Linked DNA regions of Homo sapiens. The protein of the gene in region 1 interacts with the protein of each later gene in a pairwise test. Each region holds a gene or a part of one and is shown on either strand. Other genes may lie near its edges.

Region 1 (3,500 bases):
TCTATGTGGAAATGTTAGTGCCTGCCCTACCTCTTTCACAGACATCTTCCAAAGATCAAAAGAGAACATGTACGTGAAAGTGTTCTATTTGGTAGGGGGAATTCAACCTTGAGGAGGATGAAATGGTTTTGATTTCATAGGATGGAAAGAAAATCTTGAATTAAATCAGATTAGATCTTTGTGGTTTTCTCCTTATATGTTTAGAGGTCTTGGATGGTGGTTTTATTTTTAAATAAAAACCTAACAGTAAAACTAAAGTGAAATAACCTTTAGTTAAAGATATTTATCCAAAAAAGATGTGCTTATTATGTTGAATACAGATGTGTTTATGATGTTAAAGGACAAGAATAGAAGAAATGGACATGACTGACATTGCAGCTTATTCAGCAAAACTCAAATTTAGAATATTGTGACATAAAACCCTGATATTGAGTTTACTGTTCCCTCATCTCCTTCTGACATCATGTTTTCATGGTGCCATTCAAGCCCAAGATTCATTTTTTAAAGTAAGCCTTCAAGGTACATTGCTCACAAACGTAATATCCTCATGAAGTCCCTAAATAAGGATGTAAATGTAATTATTCTTTTAAGGAAACTATCGTGGGAAGGAAATATCTTCAATTCCAGCATAAAATCATCCCTGAATTGAGGATTTTAAAGCTTTTGGAGCCAACACCAATTCACTTGCATCACCAGGCCAGAGTAGAAGGGCTCAAAGCTCTCCTCCCCAAGAGAAAGCCCCTTGGTTTGACTCTGTTCAGGATAAAGTACTGCTGTATAGGCTTCCTTACTTAGTTTATTGCCAATTATGTCAGCTTTTCATATTGATCAAGTAGTCAATATAGGAGGTTGCTTTTACTGAAAGGGAGAGGTAAGCTCTGTCACCACAGTGATCTTACAGATTTTAAGGTGCCACATGTGGTCCAAAATGTAATTTTCTCACTACAATTCTTGCAGTCTGATAATTAATGAAGTCCTACGAATGCACAATGACTAGTGAGTAACCAATACCAGAAGAAGCTGGAGACAGGCACGCACTGACTAGAGCACTAGAATGTGAACACCTGAATACCTTGAAGAATCTGTGATCGTTTTACAGCCCAAGCACAGTATTGTTAGCATTGTTATTCCTGCAGTATTTATCTGCTCTTCTTAATCTTCTTGCTTATTGATTAGTATGGCATGGGGAGCAGCACCAAAGCCTCCTTCACCCCCTTTGTGGACCCCAGAGTATACCAGACGTCTCCCACTGATGAAGATGAAGAGGATGAGGAATCATCAGCCGCAGGTAAGCAAGAAGGGCCCTGTGTTTAAAAAACAGCTTCGTCTTCCTTTCTGGTATGACCTGATAAGGAAATTAATCCTCAGTTCAGTAGTTAAGCTGATTACTGCTTAGGTCCTATCTTAAAAGGAAGACTTTTTAAAATTATTATTTCTGTAGGACTCCTAAAACAAATGTATTACTTTCCATTTTTTTTCCCATCTCTTCTATTTCGTTTCTGGTAGACCCAGGGGTACATAGGGACCCTAGGAAAAGCTGTTCCTCAGTGATCTCTGAACATAACTAAATGTTTCCCCAAAACAATTTCTGGGTACAATGTTTTACACACATTAGGCACTTAATAAGTGTATGGTACATTGTGTTGAGTTCTAGGTGTGTGCTTCCCACCACAAAGATCAGGCTGATTTAAAGGAGTCTTGCTTTCTAATCTTCTTCAAGTAATTAATCATCAAAGTCAGCTTAGGACAGTTTTTCAACTGATAAACTGCAATTTTAAAAAGTAGATCTTTTTTGCCTATATACAAGAGTGGGGATGGTGTATTTAATTTGGGACTTTCTAGACTCTGCAAGTAGTGTCTATAAGCCTGTTTTTCTAATGAATAAAAGATTCCTTTGATGAATGACTTAGACTTTATTCTACTAAAACAAAAAAAAAGTGTAAAATAAGGAGAGTTTCAGAGTTTCCTTGCCTTTACTATAATTCAAACCAAACAAGGAGAAATCATAGTGTTTTGAAGCCCCATCTCCATAAGTTATCTTTTAAGATGTCACTGACTTCTCTGATTCTTTTTCTCAAAGCTCTGTTTACTAGCGAACTTCTTAGGCAAGAACAGGCCAAACTCAATGAAGCAAGAAAGATTTCGGTGGTAAATGTAAACCCAACCAACATTCGGCCTCATAGCGACACACCAGAAATCAGAAAATACAAGAAACGATTCAACTCAGAAATACTTTGTGCAGCTCTGTGGGGTATGTTGGTGCTTTTTTTTTTTTTTTTTTTAAATAACCACTCATTAATGAACTGACCCTCAAACATTAAAAGCCTGTGGATCTTGTCATCAAAAGAACACTGGTTGAATCCTGGGTATTAGAGACCTAACTTGGGACTATCTTGACCTCAGGAGAAACCAAAAGGAGTTTTATATGTAGAAATAGCTGATACGCTACTAGCCAGGAAGACGAGATTAGATTCAGAGCAACCTTGTCACACAATAGTGATAGGCTAAAGCCAACAAGAGAACTAGCTACCACTGAATACATTGAGTGGGCAAAGCAAAGCCTATAATGTGATCAATCAGAGGCGATTTGTGTCTGGCACTTTGTGATATACCCCACGTTCATTCTCCATGATCCATACCACATCCTGCAAGGGGAATATGAGCATAAATAATGGCATAAACCTTTATTTCAAGCTGAAAAATCAGCCCAGAGTATTTTTGTGAATTACTAAAGGTCATAACCCTAGCAATAACAAGATAAAACTTGAAAAGAACAACAAATAATTTAATGAACTTTCCCTTTTAGTTTAAAACATCAATCTGCATTTTCTCGTGAAAAAGATCTGCAGGTTTTAGCTGACCTCAAACTCAGGAGAGGCATGATGAGATTCTATCAAAGTCTTGGTCTGTGTTACTATAAACATCTCATACAGATTAAGGAAGGACATGTCCCCTGTGTACCCACTGAAAATACTAGGCTTGGATTGGGGAACCATAATTTTAAAAGGCTGAAAGCATTTGAGATGTTAGCGGGGAAGAGTGTGAAGCCTAGGAACCATTTCATGATAGAGGCTCTGTCCTCTGGAGAAGAGACAGAAGAGAACAAGATAGCCACATTTAATACTGAAAGGATTAATATATGGACAAAAAAGCAGACATTTGTGTTGATCAGAAGATAGAAGTACAAGACGTAAGAGAAGTTAGAGAGTTACATGTTCATGAATAAAGTACACTGCACAATGAGCCTCTCAATGTGTGTGTGTGTTGAGGGGTGGATGATACATTTCCCTAGCCATAAATTTTTAGGATTACAACTACCCAGACAAAGCCACTTATGTGCCTGTGCTTCTGTAATAGGGATTACTGCATGGGTGTTGGGCTGCACTAGATTTAGAGACCTGAGAAGTCCCTTAAAGTGAGTATGTCTGTGACTCTCCAGCTATTAACACTTCTCTTGAATGGGTTTATCATTTCCCTAAAAAAGAGCAAAAACTTGAGGG
Region 2 (3,500 bases), on another chromosome or scaffold:
TTTTTTGAGACGAAGTTTTGCTCTTGTTGCCCAGGCTGGAGTGCAATAGCACAATCTCGACTCACTGCAACCTCCGTCTCCCAGGTTCAAGCGACTCTCCTGCCTCAGCCTCCCGAGTAGCTGGGATTACAGGCGCCTGCTACCACGCCTGGCTAATTTTTTTGTATATTTAGTAGAGATGGTGTTTCACCATGTTGACCAGGGTGGTCTTGAACTTCTGACCTCAGGTGATCCACCCACCTTGGCCTCCCAAAGTGCTGGAATTACAGGTGTCAGCCACTGCACCCAGTCCCACTTACTATTTTAAAGTGACAAAGCCAGACTTGACTCAGTGTCCTCTAATGATCTTTATGGAGAGCTTATCTACTACAGGGAATCGTGAATCGTGTGGTATGCAATCCCATGTTTGGGTGGAACAACAAACACATACACATTTTTTTCCATAGTGGAAAAATGAGCTTGTCACTTGACTTGTCTCTCGGCCTCAGTTTCCTCATTTGCAAAATGCCATAAAAATATGATGAGCAATAGTGTTTGGCACGTGACAGACAATGGATAAGGATCTTTAAAGACAATCATGATTATTTATCACCATTATCACCAGGTGCCAGTTATTGTTCTCACTGTTAGTGATACAAAGACAAACAATGCACTTAGAAGAAATTCCTGGAATACAGTGAAATGCTCACAGCCCGACTCTCCAAGAAAAGCCACGACAGATGTAGGACTGGAAGGCTGTCCCAGGGTCATCTCATCCTAGCAGCCACCTGATGCCTGCATCTTGACATTTTATCCTTCCAAGTCTGTTACCCGTCAGTGGATCCCAGGGGCTACCCCAGGGACGAATCCAACAAGTAACCACCACTGGGCGGGGAGGAAGCCAGTGTGGGGGTTGCTACCAAAACAGGCCTGGGCAACAGCAGGCAGCCGACTGGGGAAAGTCAGCAGCTGCAGTTGGCCTGGTGTCCTCGCTGCCAGAGAGTGATGAATGGAGCAAGAGAAGAAAAAAAAAGCCAACAAAGGTGTCCCTAATCTTGATGCAGCTTCATTTTTTTTTTTTTTTCTGGCTGACCATTGAGTGAGAACTTAAGCCTCCGTCCCTTTTCTTTGGCAGACATTTGAAACTGAAAGATCTCATTTCTTCCCAACAGTGAGATGTCATGGGTAGAAGCATTGAGCAGGCAACTGGCAAGGGGTGGGGGGTGGGGAGAATGGGCATGTGACCCACCACACTTGTCCTTTTTCTTTCCCTCCTCCCCACTCTCTGCTCCACCCCCTCTTCCCCATCCTGCATCTTTAGAGAATATTCTCCGCACACAACAGTGAACGCCTGCCCCCTCCTCCCGCCACCCCATTATTATTTTTCTGCTCAGGAACTAAAGGCTAAATGGCCTGCTGGGGAAGGTCTAATAACAAAATGTCACTGTATCCAGTTTCTTAGTTTTCTCTTTCTTTATCTCACTCTGAAACGGATTCGAGGCAGCAGCAACTGAACCTTTGCTGTTCTACCTAAAGGTGTGCAGCCAGCTGGCCATCTCCATGCTGGGAGAGGCAAGACGGGAGTTTTTTGCCCAGATCTAGCCCTCAGCCCTGTCCAAGTGGAGGTGCTTCCCTTAGCAAATAGCGAGGAGCTGGTGATAGGGATGTCACCAGGCCACTTCTCCAAGTGAAGTGGATTCCTCTTATCCAGGGCCCCTTGCTGAACTGGAGGCTGCAGAGCCTCATCACCTAGCACCACATGTGGCTGGAGAGAGCTCCTGATACACGTCATGGACAGCCACCTGACATTAGGTCGGCATTCCCTGCAAGTGCCACTGAAGCCTGATCAAGGCTTCTGCCACTGAGGGAACCGTGCAGCAAGACGGTGGCCACCTTCGACTCACACTTATTCTAGCCCTGTTTCTCCTTACGTGCACCTGAACTTGGCGTGCCAACCTTCCAGGTAACTAAGGCAACCTGATTCTCTTCCCTTCAAAAGGGCAGTGTTCTTCTCACAGCAATCTGGGACCCCAGGGAATTGGAAAATTGGGTCAGTTTGGATAAGCCCTCTCCCCGGGAGGGGGAGGGATGGCGACAGAGAGGAACGGCCTTGGCTACTCATTCCCTGGCTGTTGGGAGCATTTACCCAAGCGACTTGGAAAGGACTGTGAACTCCTTGTACACACTGCATCCTTCAAAGAGTCCCTCTGCCTCCATCTCTCTCTCTTCTCCCATCCCCAAAGCTCTGGTTAGCCAGCTGCTCCCAGAAGGTGGAGTTTATGCCAAACAGTCTCCTAAGCTGCCATGAGGATCTCACTGGCTTCTCTGGTTAAGGCTCCTTAGCAAAGTCTCTCCCTGAGATCCACATCAGGTTCACCCATTTTAAGAATAAATGGTAACTCTCAAGCCCAGCTGTCAACAGGGCACTCTGGGGCCCTGAGATGGATTAATAAGCCAGGACAGAGCCAGACCAGGCTACAGCTAGTATGAGTGTAGATGCAAGAATCCAGCTAGGTGGGCTCCAGTCCTGGATGCAACACCTGTTGGTGATCTTGAGCAAGTTACTAAACCTTTTTTTTTGAGATGGCGTTTCGCCCTTGTTGCCCAGGCTAGAGTGCAGAGGCGCGATCTCAGCTCACTGCAACCTCCGCCTCCTGGGTTCAAGCGATTCTCCTGTCTCAGCCTCCTGAGTAGCTGGGATTACAGGTGCGTGCCACCACACCTGGCTAATATTTTGCATTTTTAGTAGAGACGTGGTTTCACCATGTTGGCCAGGCTGGTCTTGAACTCCTGACCTCAGGTGATCCACCCACCTCGACCTCCCAAAGTGCTGAAATTACAGGAGTGAGCCACTGCGCCCGGCCGGTTACTTAACCTTTCTAAATTTCAGTTCCCTCATCTGAAGTACTTACCCCATATGGCTGTTGAAAAGATAAAATGAGGTCACAAAATAGAATGCTTAGCTCAGTGGGCAGCAGAGAGTAAACACTCAATAGATGCTGGTATTGACTATTATTTTATTCTTCTCTGGGTTACCAAATCTCTTGCTTCTCCCTATTATCTATCCTAGTGTTTTTAAACCTCATTTCTTTCTTAATAATTGACATAGGATGTTCCCAGGCATGGTAGACTCCCATGGAATACGTAGATCTTAAACTCAAGCCTCAGAAAAAGATAAAAAGCCCTCTAATCACTTGTATGTAAGTATTATTATTATACATCTACAGGTATTAGTGGATCATTAAGAGCAGCAGCATGGAGAATAAAGAGGTTCTGGGTAACTTCCCTGGCAGACTGGTTATAACTCTCACTTAAGAAACCTTGTTGGGTGGGGCACAGTGGCTCACACCTGTAATCCTAACACTTTGGGAGGCTGAGGCAGGCGGATAACTTGAGGTCAGGAGTTCGAGACCAGCCTGGCCAACATGGTGAATCCCTGTCTCTACTAAAAATACAAAAATTAGCTGGGTGAGGTGGCATGCACCTGTAATCCCAGCTACTCGGGAGGCTGAGGCACGAGA

The links.
Region 2: the proteins of TNIK (region 1) and WWC1 interact in a two-hybrid assay, tested with the Homo sapiens proteins (2 studies listed by BioGRID and IntAct).

Annotation. Positions count from the first base shown.
Region 1 is NC_000003.12:171,082,906-171,086,405, reverse strand, and holds part of TNIK (TRAF2 and NCK-interacting protein kinase), read left to right. Parts: intron 1-1,176; coding exon 1,177-1,288; intron 1,289-2,080; coding exon 2,081-2,251; intron 2,252-3,500. UniProt on the Homo sapiens protein: Serine/threonine kinase that acts as an essential activator of the Wnt signaling pathway. Recruited to promoters of Wnt target genes and required to activate their expression. May act by phosphorylating TCF4/TCF7L2.
Region 2 is NC_000005.10:168,298,145-168,301,644, reverse strand, and holds part of WWC1 (protein KIBRA), read right to left. Parts: intron 1-3,500. UniProt on the Homo sapiens protein: Regulator of the Hippo signaling pathway, also known as the Salvador-Warts-Hippo (SWH) pathway.